4 linked regions of the Homo sapiens genome follow. Changing the gene in region 4 together with the main gene of any one other region gives a genetic interaction. Each region holds a gene or a part of one and is shown on either strand. Other genes may lie near its edges.

Region 1 (3,500 bases), on a different chromosome or scaffold from region 4:
GTTGCTTCCCAGAAAGGCCTTTTTGCTCTGAATTCTCTGGAATGCTTTCTTTGACCAAGATTCTTATAAAAATAAGAGATTTAGAGCAATTTTCTTGGATGGCTGGTATGAGCCAGTTGGCTTAGTTGTAGGGATTTAAACAAGATAAGGGTTACTTACTTTTCACATTTAATGAGAAGTCTGGTGATTCCAGCTCCTACTGAGACAGGGTGGCCACACGTTCCAGGGTGTGACTCACTGAGGCCCCAGACCTGCCCTGCAAGGAAAACCTGGCTCTGCCCTGGTGTCCTGGCCTCCCTGGGCATATGTGGGGGAGAATTCCTAATGGTATTGGTTACAGGCTCCTATGCGAGACCACTCATCTGTGTAGGAGAAAGGAAAAAGATGGGGGAAAGAAGAGCAGCAGGGAGAGGAGAAGCCTCTGGATGATACTCTAACCCCCTGCCATCCAACACCTGAACATCAGTCTCTTCATCCAGTGCTCTCAGCTGGCCCAGCCCCCAGCCTGGGGTCAGATGAGAGCTTCCTGCAAATGCAGATCTCTTTCCTGTGGCTCCTTCTCAATTACAGACAGCTCCTCCACAAGGTGCACTCTGGCCTTGTGCTCCCTCCCCAAACCAGCCCAGCCCTCCCAGCCTGCATCATCGTGGTCCTGTAGGGGCTAGAGGTTCTCACACCCATCGTGGTCTGGCAGAGGCTGGTGGTTCTCACACCCATCGTGGTCCGGCAGGGGCTTAGTGGTTCTTATACCCATCGTGGTTCAGGAGGGGCTAGTGGTTCTCACACCCATCGTGGTCTGGCTGGGGCTAGTGGTTCTCATGTCCACCGCGTGCTTTCCTGCTCCTCCAGGTGGCTGAGGACATCCCCCCTTCGGTCTGAATGACTTCCATCCAGTCATCTGATATACACATTGGACCACCCAATAGCATCCTAGTGTCATGTTGGATGGTGAAGAAAATGCCACAGTTACTGCTTTCAGGGCCTCACAACCTTGGGCATAGCTTTTTGGAGGAAGGCCCCACTTCCCAGGCATCCCTCCCAGACCTGGTCAGAGGCCCCTGCTCTTTGCTTCCATGTTGCCCACACTCACTGTGCTCTTCACACCGGCTCAAAATGATCTGCTTACGGGGTTGTGTCACCACCAGATCAAGCGTCCTGGAGAGGAGGAAACATATTTAACCTGCACAGAATTTGGGACAGAGAACCTCTAGTGTTTGTTCAATAAATATATGAATGGATAGAGGGACAGGTTGGGTGGTGGATAGATGGATGAACCCACACCTTTGAAGTGTATTTGGCTGTTTGAGAGGTTAGAATATGTTCTCAATTTCCAGGCAAAATGAAAATGGAGAAAATATAATGACATTAAGGCATTTTATTCATCCTCCCCATCTGCCACTGGGTTAAAGATACTAAATAAACAAGGAACTATCTTTTGCCTGGAGGAACTTTAAAAACACCTGCAGTTTTCAAAAGGTGCAGTGTGTGCCTCCCACAGCATGACCTACCATCATTGGAAAGCAGTTTGTAGTCAATCAAAGGTGGTCTGGAGAAACAAAGTTTTCAGGGATACATTGTTTTTATAATTTTTCACCACATGATTTTTCTTCTCTCCAATGTAGTGGTCAGTTTTCTCTTGCAGTCGTCAGCCTGAACATAACATCCTTGGGATTACGCTCCCTCAAGGAGATAAGTGATGGAGATGTGATAATTTCAGGAAACAAAAATTTGTGCTATGCAAATACAATAAACTGGAAAAAACTGTTTGGGACCTCCGGTCAGAAAACCAAAATTATAAGCAACAGAGGTGAAAACAGCTGCAGTAAGTCACCGCTTTCTGTTTAGTTTATGGAGTTGGTTCTAATGGGTCCTTTATTTGTATTTAGAATATTGAAGGGCTATTCCCATTTAAATTACTTTTTTCAGTTCCTTAAGAAGCAAATTAAAATCTTAAGATTCCTAACTGTGAAATTACCATGTGAATTCCATTAAAACTTTTTCCAGATCATTACCATTCAATGGGATGAATTTACCCTGAGGTTTAGGCTACCAATTATTTGTAATGTAAGTAACTAAATTTAGTATTAGTTATATTACCTTTTAGTTGTAGGTCACTCTCTGCTCATTTCAGCCTGTAAAGACTACAGCTACACACATACACACACAGAGGAATGGAATGAGCACTTTACATCAACACTTCCTGTTCTGGCTCTAGAGCCTCAGCTTTTGAAGCTGGTGAGAGCCTGGCCTGTGCTGGGCCTTGGCCACGGGCAGCGTCAGCTTTGAGTCAAGTGCTGGTCTGGCCTCCCTAGCTTTGAGCCTCTGTCAATTCCCTTAATCTGTTTAGGCTTTGGCTTCCTCATCCATAGAATGGAGATATGAATGATTCCTACGCCGTAGTGCTTTGAGAGAATTCAGTGAAATTCCTGTGTGTAAAACCCTTCCATGGTGCCTAGCACACAGCACACAGCCAATGGCCCAATGGCTCCTATCAGCTGTGGGATTTGTCATCAGAACACCACCAGCTCTGCTCCAGGCTGCCCTGGGTACCATCAAAACACACCCTGTGCCCAGCAGCACCTGCTCCTCTGCACACCTGGTTCCTTCAGCAGGGGCAGTGGCCGTGGGAGCACAGAAAACATGGAGTCCCATCTGGTTTAATTGATGCCATTGCCAAAGGGGAGGACTCACGGCACCCCCTCTCGGGTGCCAGGGTGCCTGGCTCCCACCAGGAGGAAGACCTGTCCTCCACTGTCAGGCACATTTCAGTCTTCCCAGCAGCCAGCACAACTACTTTGTCCTTCCAGTCACGGTCGGCCTCTGGGAAGCCCAGTCTGTGTCCTCCTCCTTCAGGGGTAGCCAGCATGTCTGTGTCACCCAAGGTCATGGAGCACAGGGCCCCTCCCGGGAAGGTGCCGTCTCCTCCGGCCCCTCGGGTCCCTGCTCTGTCACTGACTGCTGTGACCCACTCTGTCTCCGCAGAGGCCACAGGCCAGGTCTGCCATGCCTTGTGCTCCCCCGAGGGCTGCTGGGGCCCGGAGCCCAGGGACTGCGTCTCTTGCCGGAATGTCAGCCGAGGCAGGGAATGCGTGGACAAGTGCAACCTTCTGGAGGGGTAGGAGGTTATTTCTTTAATCCCCTTGCGTTGATCAAAAATAAGGCTCCAGGTTGTTGTTATAGCTTTACAGGCATTCTGTTTGATTTTCTCTTCCTTTTATTCTTTGCCCTTGGCTTTTGGAGGTTTTGGGTTTTCTGTGGGGAGACGGGAAGTTGTTTGATTGCGTTATTTTTGGCAAATTTAAGCACAATAGGAAATAAGCAAGTATTATTGCCTAATATAATCCAATAATTTATAGAATCTCTTTTCCTGGAAGTATCTTAAATTTTTCTAAGCTACAAAAAGTTCCTAAGACAAATGAGACAGTCATCAATGGTTCATCTAGCCAACACCGTGGCCATTTGGGCTTTTCTTTGTAGTGCCCGATTCCTGGTGTGTGAAA
Region 2 (4,129 bases), on a different chromosome or scaffold from region 4:
CCGAAGCCTGTGCAGATCAGACAGTGCAGATCAGACAAGGCCTTTAGACACCAAGGAGCTCTGGGACGCGAGAACCAGTAGTCGGGGTGATCTAAGAGGGGAAGCTCCGGGTTCCGCGGAAGCTGAGTTTCCTTCACTCAGCGCGTGTCTTCTGGGGTCTCCTGTGTTCAGCGAATGAAGCCACGGGCACAAGGACGGACGAGACCCATCAGGTCCAGAGCGCACCCGTGGAGGAAGCTGGGCGAACCCCGACTGTCCTATGGAGGATAGTCCTATGGACCAGACGAAGCCCCTGCCCCAAGGAGTGCCCGGGTGTAACCGCAAGTTAAGGAGCCCTGGGGAGGTGACACAGGCACCCTCATTCCTTTTGTTCAGTAGGAGTCTCTGAGGCCTCCCCAGCACCATGCCGCGTGGGTGAGGCCGAGGACACAGAGAAATATCAGGCAAGGCTCCTGCCCCCTTAGGGTGGCCCTGACAACGGATCATAACCTCCCAGGGAGCTGATGGGGTGTGACAGGCACACCATAGGCTGGAGGCACAGGTGGAGGGCAGGGAAGAGGACCGGCAAATCTATAGAATCCTAAAGGGAGCCAAGAGAAGCCACATGCAAATCTCCCTCCCTCCAAACAATTCTCCCTTAGAGGGCATCCGCGCTCCCCTGGGGTGGCAGTCAGCGAGAAGTTTCCGTGTAGGTTCTCCCCAGGCTTAAACAGTTTAAGAGTTTTATTTCAAGAAAACCCTGGGGAGGGCGAACTGCAAGAGGGCTGCCAGGATTAGCCGAGGGATTCCGAATGAAGACGGAGTATTTCCGAACATACACACCTCTCCCAAGAGCGTTTCCGGAGGGTTCCGAAAATACCCGAGCGGGCCTCGGCGCCCTCATTGGCCATCACCGCGAGGGCTTACGAAGACCGGAAATATCCAAAGGTGCCGGGGCTAGGCTTATATAGTTCACGCATTCACCAGTTCATTCATAAAACAAATGTTTGTTGAGCGCCCATCATATGCCAATCACAGTGACAAGTGCTGGGTGAGCAATACTGGAGAGATAACGCTGAGGTATGGGTCCCAGGACCTCTCGAATTGGAGCCACTCGGAAATCCAGCGGTAGAGTTTCGAAAACTTCCGAACGGTTCCCGGAATACGCTCTCGGCCCTCTAACCGAAGAGTTCCGAATATTCCCGAGCGTTGAGCGAATTTTCGGCGGAAGCAGCCGAACATCATCGAGCCGCCTCGGAGGTGGGGACCGACAACTCCTGTCGTGCCCGCCCGGAGAGGAAGCGGAAATGCGTGTACGGTATTAAAGGCGTCGCCTCGCCCCTCGCCTTCCTCTTTCCGTCTCAGGTCGCCGCTGCGAAGGGAGGTGAGCGTTCGTCTTCCTCGCGTGGTCGCCATCTCCGGCCCGCCGCGCACTCCCTCTCAGTCCTCTGCCTGCCTTCTCCCCTTGCGCCTCAAGGGTCATTGGCGGACCCCAACCCCTCCCCGTGAAGTCGTTGTGAATTTTCAAGTTATTTTCCCCTCACTCTCATTCGCCGCAGCTAGTCTCGGCTGCCTGAATTCGGTCCCGCCGCCTTAGGTCACTCAGTCCCGCCTGACAAGAGTTCTAGGTCGCTGTCTGCCCTCAGGGGTCTCCCATTCACCCAAGTTCCCAGTCGCTCTCTTCCTCTGCTGTCCGAGCGTGGCCCGTGGCCTAACGCTGCTTTAGTTCTCTGTGTCTGACGCTTTCCCTGTGCCCGTTTCCCCGCAGCCGCCGCCATGTCTGCGCATCTGCAATGGATGGTCGTGCGGAACTGCTCCAGTTTCCTGATCAAGAGGAATAAGCAGACCTACAGCACTGTAAGTGGGGCCCGGATGCGTGGCTCCTGCGGGAGGAGGGTCCTGAGTCTCTTGACTCTGGGTCAGAGGGCGGGACCTTCGCATGTCTCCGGGTCCCTTATTCACGATGCCTTGTGCCGCCTCCTTCCCAGGAGCCCAATAACTTGAAGGCCCGCAATTCCTTCCGCTACAACGGACTGATTCACCGCAAGACTGTGGGCGTGGAGCCGGCAGCCGACGGCAAAGGTGTCGTGGTGGTCATTAAGCGGAGATCCGGTGAGTTTTGTCTGGTTTGGGCCAGAGAGCGGCCCCTTTCCCGGGTCTGGGAGCTGTGATTTTTTACTGTCAGGCAGGAAGAGCGGTAACTGCCATCGCGGCGGGCATCCCTGGCGCCAGGGTGTTGGTCTGGGTACCGGCTTCCCTCTCGGCCGACTTGTCAGCTCTGTGAGCCGCGCGCGTCTGAGCCCGTGTCCTCACCTGTAAAGTGGAGAAATGAAAAAGGACCTGAACTTCCTCGGTGGTTGTTGAGAGTTAAGGCACGGGGTTGATGTTTTCAGATGAAATTCTCAAAGCAAGTCAGGGTGGGGATGGATGGTTTCATCCCACAGGTGGGAAGATTGAGGCACAACAGGGGAGGGGCCCTCGCTACCACACTTAGGAGGGGACAGGCTGGGTTGGTTGCAGCCATTTGATTCCCATTTTGCCTGTGTAGGTTAGAGAAGAGGTCTTGGGGACCCCACTCCATACATTGTGCTGTCAGGTGCAGGCCTTTTTGGGGATTCCCTGAATGTTCGTGTGAGTCGGGGGTCTCTAATGGAGGAGTCCAGCTTCACATGTGTTCTTGACAGGGCTGTATTTTCTTTTTAGAGTGAGTTTTTCTCAGGTCCTTGATTGGAACTGCCTCAGAGCCAAGGGTCCTTTTACTCAGTGGCAGCAACAAACGCAGTCTGTTGGCTAGTGATCCTCCTGTCTCAGGGACACGTAGTCCAGGGAGCAGCCAATTGCTTGGCACTTGGGGACCCCGTTCTGGGGAGTCCTGAAAGCTTTCACCTCTTGGATTGCCGAATACATGGGTGGCCCTTCCTAGACTAAGGGACTGGCCTGAGTGAGGCTGGGCCTCTCAGCCAAGCTGATGTTGAACCACTGCTGTGGGGATGGGCCTGGGGTTCCTGGGAAGCTGTTCATACCCATTGCCAGGAGCGTGGGCTCTGGCTGGACCTGGATCAGATCCTAACTGAAGCGGCAGCTTTCTGGCATGAGAAAGGAGTGTTTTCATGGTGGACAGAATTGGGCTATGAGTGTGGCAGAAGCTGTGTCCTCAGTACTCCGTGATGACGAGTGAGCCTCTGTGAAATGGACAGGTGGGAAAACAGCTACCTGCTGGCCTGCCCAGGCACCCGCCACGGGCCCACGCTGCTCAGCTTCTCAATGTGAGACTGTCCACACCTGCGAGGTGTGCTAAAGGTGCAGGTTAGGTGGACTGACCCCAGGACCTCCCTGACCCCCAACCAGGCCAGCGGAAGCCTGCCACCTCCTATGTGCGGACCACCATCAACAAGAATGCTCGCGCCACGCTCAGCAGCATCAGACACATGATCCGCAAGAACAAGTACCGCCCCGACCTGCGCATGGTGAGCTGGGGTTTGGGGATCAGGCTTGGGGAGACTGGCCAGTGCTGTGGGGAAGGGCCTCCCACTACTGGTTGCAATATGGGCTGGAGAGGGATGGATTCTTGCTTTCAGCCTACTCCCCACACCCAGCATTGGCCTAGGGGGCGGCTTGTGGAGTGTATGGGCTGAGCCTTGCTCTGCTCCCCCGCCCCCAGGCAGCCATCCGCAGGGCCAGCGCCATCCTGCGCAGCCAGAAGCCTGTGATGGTGAAGAGGAAGCGGACCCGCCCCACCAAGAGCTCCTGAGCCCCCTGCCCCCAGAGCAATAAAGTCAGCTGGCTTTCTCACCTGCCTCGACTGGGCCTCCCTTTTTGAAACGCTCTGGGGAGCTCTGGCCCTGTGTGTTGTCATTCAGGCCATGTCATCAAAACTCTGCATGTCACCTTGTCCATCTGGAGGTGATGTCAATGGCTGGCCATGCAGGAGGGGTGGGGTAGCTGCCTTGTCCCTGGTGAGGGCAAGGGTCACTGTCTTCACAGAAAAAGTTTGCTGACTTGTGATTGAGACCTACTGTCCCATTGTGAGGTGGCCTGAAGAATCCCAGCTGGGGCAGTGGCTTCCATTCAGAAGAAGAAAGGCCTTTTCTAGCCCAGAAGGGTGCAGGCTGAGGGCTGGGCCCTGGGCCCTGGTGCTGTAGCACGGTTT
Region 3 (4,116 bases), on a different chromosome or scaffold from region 4:
CCTCTGTGTTTGGGTTCAAGGAGTAGGTCTGGAAATGTTTCTTTTCTTCTTTCAGATGGAGTCTCGCTCTGTCGCCCAGGCGGGAGTGCAGTGGCGTGATCTCGGCTCACTGCAACCTCGGCCTCCTGGGTGCAATCAAATCTCGAGCCTCAGCCTCCCGAGTTGCTGGGGTTACAGGCACGAGCCACCACGCCCAGCTAATGTTTTGTATTTTTAGTAAAGATGGTAGTTTCACCAGGTTGGCCAGGTGGGTCTCGAATGCCTGACTTCAAGTGAACCCGCCTCAGCGTCCCAAAATGTTGGGATTGCAGGCGTGAGCCACCACGCCCAGCCTGGAAACGTTTCTAACAGTACTGGGGCAACTCCCTCCCAAGGCCCTGAGGGGCGCAGGAACGAGGTGAGTAGGAATGGCCAGAGCCCCTTGGACACATGGGGCCCCAATCTCGAGGTGTAAGGGTCAGAGTCACCCCGGAAGGAGGTGGAGTGGAGTCCGCCCGTTACCGGCTCACTTCCTTCAGGCTCTCACCCCGATTGTCCTTCAGGTCCTCTACCCACCACACTCCCTATTTCTTCCAATGAAATTGTCCCTGCTTCTTTTTCTCCATATCCTCGCTCTCCTTGCTTCCCCTATGACATTTCTCCTCTCTCCACCTCCCAAAAGTCCCCTCGGTCTTTTCTCTGTTTCTTCCTGTTGCCTTCATTCCCCTCCTTTTAATAAAGTGAGTCTGGAACCTTGGTTTCCCTTTTCTCTCTCCATGTGACTGGTGCTGCATGCAGTTTGCCCTCTCCCCATCGCGCTAAGTGGTTTCACTTTCTCCCTCTGACCCTCGGGGAAACCACAAAGGTTCCCGTGCCTCCATTCCCCCGCTCCAGCCCTCAAGGTGCCGCGTGCCTCAATTTCCCAGGCTCTTTTCCTCCCTCTCCCTGTCCCCAACGCTGACTCCCTCACGGCGTCCCCAAAATGGCGCCCGCGGCCGCGCTCCGCCGCCTAACGTCATCGCGCCGCCCTCCGCTCAGAGTTCCCCTCTGGAGCCGTCGGAGGCGGAGTCGAGGAGGAGGAGGAGCATCCTCTAAGGAGGATTAAAGGGGCGGGCACTATCCACCCGAGGGCTGACCGGTGAGGGAACGACGCTAAAGGATTGGTTGGGCGCTGCGGGGAATCTCGACGCTCCTCACTATTGGCCCAAGCCTCAGAGACATGAACGTCGATTGGCCGAACGGCAGGGCCCGAGCGGGCAATGATTGGTTGCGTCCGGCCGTCCGTGCGGCGGCCGAGGAGGAAGGTGGGAGGGGCGTTGCTGAGGGTAGCTGGGGGCGAGAGCGAGGCTACGGAGCAGGCGAGAGGCGACGGCGAGAGCTAGAGCGGGCGCAGCGTTAGGGTGGCCGTGCAAGGGGAGCCGTGGCCCGGGCCCGGGGCGTGCGAGACGGCGGAAGCAGGTGAGCGCGAGCGGGCGCGCAGAGGCCGGCCGGGCTGCGCTCCCTGCCGCCGCGGCCTCCTCTTGCCAGGTCGCCTGCGCACTGAGGGCCTGAGGGGGTGCGCGCCGGGCAGTTAGGGCGGAGCGGCACCAACGGCCGACCCGGCGCGCGGGCAGCCGGGCGGGGGCCGGGCTGGAGCGGCGGGTGGGGAAGGGGCCTGGAGTCGCGTGCGGGGCTGAGTGAGGAGGGGCGGGGCTCGGGCTGAGGCTTTGGTGGGGCACCTGGGCGGGAAGGGGAGGCCTCAGAGCTGTCCCAAGAGGGCTCCGCGGCTCCCCAGGGTTTGGGGTAAAGGACTTGGTGGTGTGGCAAGTCCAGGACGAAGGGGCTGGGCCGGTTAGACGGCACGTGGGTGCCCAGTTAGGGGCTTAGGGCGTGAGAAAGATAATTAAGTTAATGCAGGGGAAAAATATCTAGTTCTTCCTGGAAAGAATTGGGGCGGTGAGAGGGGTTTTGGTGTGAAGACATTAGGAAATCGATATCCCCAAGGGAACGGTTTAGAGCTAAGGAGGGGTCCAGTTGTAATGGATGGGGTTAAATTAATGTGAAGAGGCCTTAAACCAATGTGTCAGGAGGTTGGGTACCCTTGGAATGCGTGGAAAGGAGTCTTTGTACAAAGAAGGATTAAGTGTATTTTAAAAGGGTGTCTGGGTGTCCCTAGAATGAGCTGGGGAAGGTAGTCTTTTTTAAGTACAGGTAATTAGGCCAAGGTGAAGATGGGATTTGGTTATTGGAAGGGGAGGAAGTAGGGTGGGAGAGATCTGTGTGCTAAAGTGAGGGGTGCCTGGGAATTCCTGGAATGAGACTGAGAGGTTGCTAAGACGCTGGGGGGTCTGAGTACCCCCAGAATAGGAGGCTGGTGAGAGGGGCTTGAGTGTGAGGAAGAGGGGTCTGTGCTGGATTAAGGTGGTGATGGAGGTTCTGTATGAGAATAGGAGGTCCGGGTATCCCTAAAGGGGGTTTGGGCAGCACGAGGGGTGTGTGTAAAAGGAGCTTAAGCCATTGTGAAAGATGGGTGTGTGGATCTTTACACAAAGAAGAGGAGTTATGTTGCTACGAAGAGGAGGGTCTGAGCATCCCTAGAATGGGTTAGGGTGGGTTGGGTCTTCTAGCAAATTAAAAAAGATTAGGTTAATAATGTGGAGGAGGATCTGGATATTCCTGAGATGGATTTGAGGGGGGGCTCTGTTTGCAAGAGAGGCATAGGTTGATATAAAATGAGGGTATGGGCATCCCTGAATGAGTGGCTGTGTATGAACAGGAAGGGTTTAAATCAATGGGAAGAGGGGATCTGGGTATCTCAGAGGGGATTAGAATTGTCGATTTGGTCTTGGTACAAAGAAGAGGTGATGAATGTAAAGAGTGGATAGATACCCTGGAGACAGGAGCTAGGGTGGTGGAAGGGCCTAGGTCCGAAGCGGGGAGGAGTAGGCTTTTGTGAAAATGGGTCTGGGTATTCTGGATAGGGGGTTAGGGTTGTAGGAGAGGGCCTTGATTTGTAGAGGAGGTTAAGTAATTAAACAGGGCTGCGTATCATGAAGTGGTTAAGGTGGGCAAAGTCTGGGTGTGGAGATGGGTTAGGCCAGTGTGAGAAAATTTGACTGGGGGGAAGGGATATAGTTTGACGTGAGGAATCTGGGCACCTGAGGAAGAGTTGGTGGGTAGCAGGGGTTGCGTGTAAAGGGGAGGGGTGGCACCTTGTACAGTGCTGAAAGTGGAGTGGTGGGGCATTGGGCAGTTTGAGTGGTCTGAGTGTAAAAAGAAGTCTGAGAACCTGGGAGAAGGAGCAGAGGCCATGGGAGGGGTGTGGCTGGGAGAAACAGGTGGGGAAGGCCTATATGGGGTTTCAGTTGGGTACCTTGGAGAGGAATGGGGTGAGGTGAGTTGGTAAGAAAAGGAGTCAGTGGAAGGAGGTCTGAGTGGAGGTTCCCATGTGCTGGGCGGAACTGTGGGGCCCACTGTGAGGTGTGGGAGATGAGGGGACTGGACAGGTTACAAGGATCTGGTGGGTGGAGTTTGATGCAAGTTGATACAGAGGTGAGACTGTGGGTAAATTCCTGGGGAAGGGACTGCCTGGGAGATTTGTGTTTGGTGTTTGTTATGCTGAGGGGAGGAAGGATTATTGGGAGGGAGGCAGAATTTTAAAAATCGAAGGAAGAACTTAAGGGGGTGTAGATCTAAGGTATTAGGAGTGGAGAGTGATGAAGGGAAGAGCTGAGGAATCGGTGACCTAACTGGTTTGTCCCCACTGTCTCCTCTTCCAGCCCAGGGCCTTGCTGCCGCCATGACTGAGGAATCAGAGGAGACAGTCCTGTACATTGAGCACCGCTATGTCTGCTCTGAGTGCAACCAGCTGTATGGATCACTGGAAGAGGTGCTTATGCACCAAAACTCCCACGTGCCCCAGCAGCACTTTGAGCTGGTGGGCGTGGCTGATCCCGGAGTCACTGTGGCCACAGACACAGCTTCAGGCACGGGCCTCTATCAGACCCTTGTGCAGGAGAGCCAGTACCAGTGCCTGGAGTGTGGTCAACTGCTGATGTCACCCAGCCAGCTCCTGGAGCACCAGGAGCTGCACCTGAAGATGATGGCACCCCAGGAGGCAGTGCCAGCTGAGCCATCACCTAAGGCACCACCCCTGAG
Region 4 (3,500 bases):
AGGCAAGAATTTTATTTTCCTTTAAAATGAATCCTGTATTCTTCCCCTAGAGGACTGCATATTTAACAAATGAAACCCAGGAACTAGGCCAGAATTTGGTCTGTGAGAGTAGCATCCTCTCTAATATATGGCTTGACAGGGAACAAGAGTTGCTTAGTAACTGAAAAAAAAAAAAATGCCAAAGTACATAAGGTACATAGTTTGTAGTTGTTTTTAACTACCCCCATCAGGGTACTAATTAATACATTCTTCCATTCATTATATAATGCACTTACTCTTACTAAACATTTATCCACCAAAAACTGCATGCTCACTGCCAAAGAAACCACTCTGCAATTCTATTAACATCCATTTTTTAAAAAGTTTAGTTTCCTTTCACTTTGTAGGATAACTCTACTTCTACTTCTTTCTTTCTTTCTTATACTACATTAAAACCCTGGTTAAGAAAGTGATCCTTAAATTTGCTAAGTGATTTCTATCATGGTAAACTCTGGCAAAGCTGAAGGCCAGTAACTCATTAAGATTTGATTCCTGAATATCAGCTACTGACAGATTAGGTCACATGCCTGTTAAGTCTGAATCCAAAACTGGGTTTATATGAAGATAAACTCTTGAAATAAAATGTATACCTCATAATTATAGGGAATAGTTTCATTTTTAATATAGCACTTACATGTTACCATTCAGTTGAATTTTGGGGAAAATAAAACAAAGATAATACCTTTGATTCCACTTGGTTTAGCATATGCGGAATGTCAGAAGTTGTTGACTTGGGTATACCAAGTGTATCAAACATAGCTTGAACTTCCTGATAAACTTCACTATTTTTATCTAATTGAGAATTTTTATGTTTCTTGTTCTGTAATATCTGTGAAGCTTGAAGTTCTGTACTTAAAAATACTACAATAAAGAGAAAATAAATAATGTTAATACATGTATAAGAATCTCTTGAAATATTTCACTGAAATTATTCACTTAAAACAAGTATCAATTAATACCAATAATGCCAACTTACAAAGACCCAAAGAACAACAGTTGTAGAACACTGTACACTTATAAACGAAGTGATTCCCTAGTCCATAGCAAGTGTTACGTTTTTTTAAATGAAATGAGAAAAAACAACTAACTAAAGCTATATAAAATAGACACCCTATTAAATGCATTTACACTGTAAATGCCACTTTAAATGGTTGATTCTTTTCACACCGGAGGAGCCCTAGCAGCTCCTACTGGAGTTAAGCAGGCAAAGATACAGGCCCCCAGAAAACAGCAGCGTAACTTTCATCTACTTTACCTAGAGAGGTTTAACCTAAGACTTAGTTTGAAACAGATGAATGGGTACAAAAAAAAAAAGGGCACTACAAGCAAAAAACTAAAATGAATTTATTTAATACTACCAGGAAAAAGAGAAATGGTTTATTTTATTCTCTTCGATTTCACACTAGCTGGTTTCAGTTCAATTTTAATTAACATATTAAATGATCTAGATTGCTATTTCAGTAAGTACATGTCTACCAAGGACCTGTTCTGAGCCAGGAACGGTGTGAACAATGGGGATGCCAAGTCAAGGAAGATATGATGCCTACCCTCAAAGAGTATAAAATCCAGTAGTTGAGACCCACCACCAAATCAACAATTTAAGAACAGACAAGAATGTGTAAGACTCTGATAAATTATTCTCTGTCTTATATGTACAGAGCACACAGGTCAGGGGAGAACATATAGCTCTAACTGATATATAAGCACATAGAGCAATTTGAGTCAGGATAAATCACCCCAAACTGTTTACAAGTCCCTTTACTTTCACCGTTTCATCTAATCCTTTCAATAGCCATATTTAAGAAAATTACTCAAAAATCTTAAATGATTATAGTCTTGTTTTAAACAGACTCTTCACTACGGTAGGTAAGACTTTGTTTTTGGCTGGGAGTGGTGGCTCACACCTATAATCCCAGCACTTTGGGAAGCTGAAGCAGGCAGATTACCCGAGGTCAGAAGCTTAAGACCAGCTTGGCCAACATGGTGAAACCCCGACTCTACTAAAAGTACAAAAATTAGCCAGGCATGGCAGCATGCGCCTGTAGTCCCAGCTACTAGGGAGGCTGAGGCAGGAGAATTGCTTGAACCCAGAGGCGAAGGTTGCACTGAATCGAGATCGTGCCATTGCACTCCAGCCTGGGTGACAGATCAAGATTCCATCTCAAAAAATACATAAATAAATACTTTGTTTTTATTTGTTTAGTTAAAATTAGACACAAACGCCACAATTTAATATAGCAGTTTTAACTTCAGCTGAGCAAAAATACATCTGAAAAACAATTTAAAAGTACAGGTGCCAGGGTCCCATCCTCTGAGATTCTGAACAGTAGATCTACAAGTAGGAGTTGGGCATCTGTGTGTGGTTTGTTTTAGACCCAGTATGATTGCCAAGGTCAGGCAAGATTGAGGGTCACTGGTTTAAAGACTTTTCCATGCAGTCTACACATGACAGTTTAAAGAGTCAAGTACCAAAATATTAAGATCAATTATTAAACTTTAAGACCAATATTAAACTTTCCTTATGAGGACTATACTAAGGTCCTTCTGACTTAAAAACTTCATTAAGACCAGCTATGGTGGCTCAGGCCTGTAATCCCAGTATTTTGGGAGGCTAAGGTAGGAGGACAGCTTGGGCCCAGGAGTTTAAGACCTACCTGGGCAACACAGACCCATCTTTACAAAATATTTTTTAAAAATTTGCTAGGCATGGTGGTGTACGCCTGTAGTCCCAGTTATGCAGGCTGAGATGAGAGGATCGCTTGAGCTCCAGAGTTTGAGGGGCTACAATCGCACCATCACACTCCAGCCTGGGCAACACAGTGAGACCCCATCTCATAATAAAAACTTGATTAAACTTGATTAAAACAGATTGCCAGTTTTTCAAAAATTTATATTTTAGACAGAACCTTGGCTGAAGTCTACTTTTGCTCTATGGAAACATGCTTTCTCCATGTAATAGTACAAACAAGGGTTTAGCATTTACGATGCTAATCCATGCAGATAGTAAGCAGTAGAGGGAAAATTAAGCCTTCTTCCTTTTGCAGATCCTTAGATTCCCCCTTCCCAGAGGCAATCACCATTAATTTCTTGGGTATCCTTTTAGGCATGTGTGTGTGTATGTATTCAAGATACCTAGTAGCCATCTGTGTGCGTTTGTTCCTTTTATACAAACAAGAACATGCTATACATGTCCTGTATATTTATTTTGTATTTACCAACATATCTTAGAGATCATTCCACATCAGCACATTTGATTTATCTGCATTCTTCCTATTACCTATCTAGTGACATCACTGCATTAATGTACCACTTCTATTTATCTATATTTATGGACACTCAGGTTTCTGGTCTTTTTATTACTACAATGTCATAATGAACATGGTTTTCATTTATCTTTGTACACTTGGGGAAATAGATATATATTCATAGACAAACAATTGCCAAGTCAAAAGAATTGCCAA

Evidence for each region.
Region 1: changes in FAM98B (region 4) and EGFR together harm fitness more than expected from each alone (negative genetic interaction), as found in Homo sapiens cells (one large-scale study listed by BioGRID).
Region 2: changes in FAM98B (region 4) and RPL28 together harm fitness less than expected from each alone (positive genetic interaction), as found in Homo sapiens cells (one large-scale study listed by BioGRID).
Region 3: changes in FAM98B (region 4) and ZNF574 together harm fitness less than expected from each alone (positive genetic interaction), as found in Homo sapiens cells (one large-scale study listed by BioGRID).

Annotation. Positions count from the first base shown.
Region 1 is NC_000007.14:55,158,517-55,162,016, forward strand, and holds part of EGFR (epidermal growth factor receptor isoform a precursor), read left to right. Parts: intron 1-1,622; coding exon 1,623-1,822; intron 1,823-2,982; coding exon 2,983-3,115; intron 3,116-3,500. UniProt on the Homo sapiens protein: Receptor tyrosine kinase binding ligands of the EGF family and activating several signaling cascades to convert extracellular cues into appropriate cellular responses.
Region 2 is NC_000019.10:55,384,603-55,388,731, forward strand, and holds the start of RPL28 (large ribosomal subunit protein eL28), read left to right. Parts: upstream 1-1,329; 5' UTR 1,330-1,363; intron 1,364-1,747; 5' UTR 1,748-1,755; coding exon 1,756-1,836; intron 1,837-1,967; coding exon 1,968-2,091; coding exon of another isoform or gene 2,092-2,150; exon of another isoform or gene 2,151-2,438; intron 2,439-2,682; coding exon of another isoform or gene 2,683-2,687; exon of another isoform or gene 2,688-3,117; intron 3,118-3,327; coding exon 3,328-3,446; coding exon of another isoform or gene 3,447-3,614; exon of another isoform or gene 3,615-3,640; coding exon 3,641-3,730; 3' UTR 3,731-4,129. UniProt on the Homo sapiens protein: Component of the large ribosomal subunit. The ribosome is a large ribonucleoprotein complex responsible for the synthesis of proteins in the cell.
Region 3 is NC_000019.10:42,074,850-42,078,965, forward strand, and holds the start of ZNF574 (zinc finger protein 574), read left to right. Parts: upstream 1-1,316; 5' UTR 1,317-1,437; intron 1,438-1,634; exon of another isoform or gene 1,635-1,655; intron 1,656-1,696; exon of another isoform or gene 1,697-1,761; intron 1,762-1,779; exon of another isoform or gene 1,780-3,510; intron 3,511-3,737; coding exon of another isoform or gene 3,738-3,757; coding exon 3,758-4,116. UniProt on the Homo sapiens protein: May be involved in transcriptional regulation.
Region 4 is NC_000015.10:38,467,627-38,471,126, reverse strand, and holds part of FAM98B (protein FAM98B), read right to left. Parts: intron 901-3,500; coding exon 722-900; intron 1-721. UniProt on the Homo sapiens protein: Positively stimulates PRMT1-induced protein arginine dimethylated arginine methylation.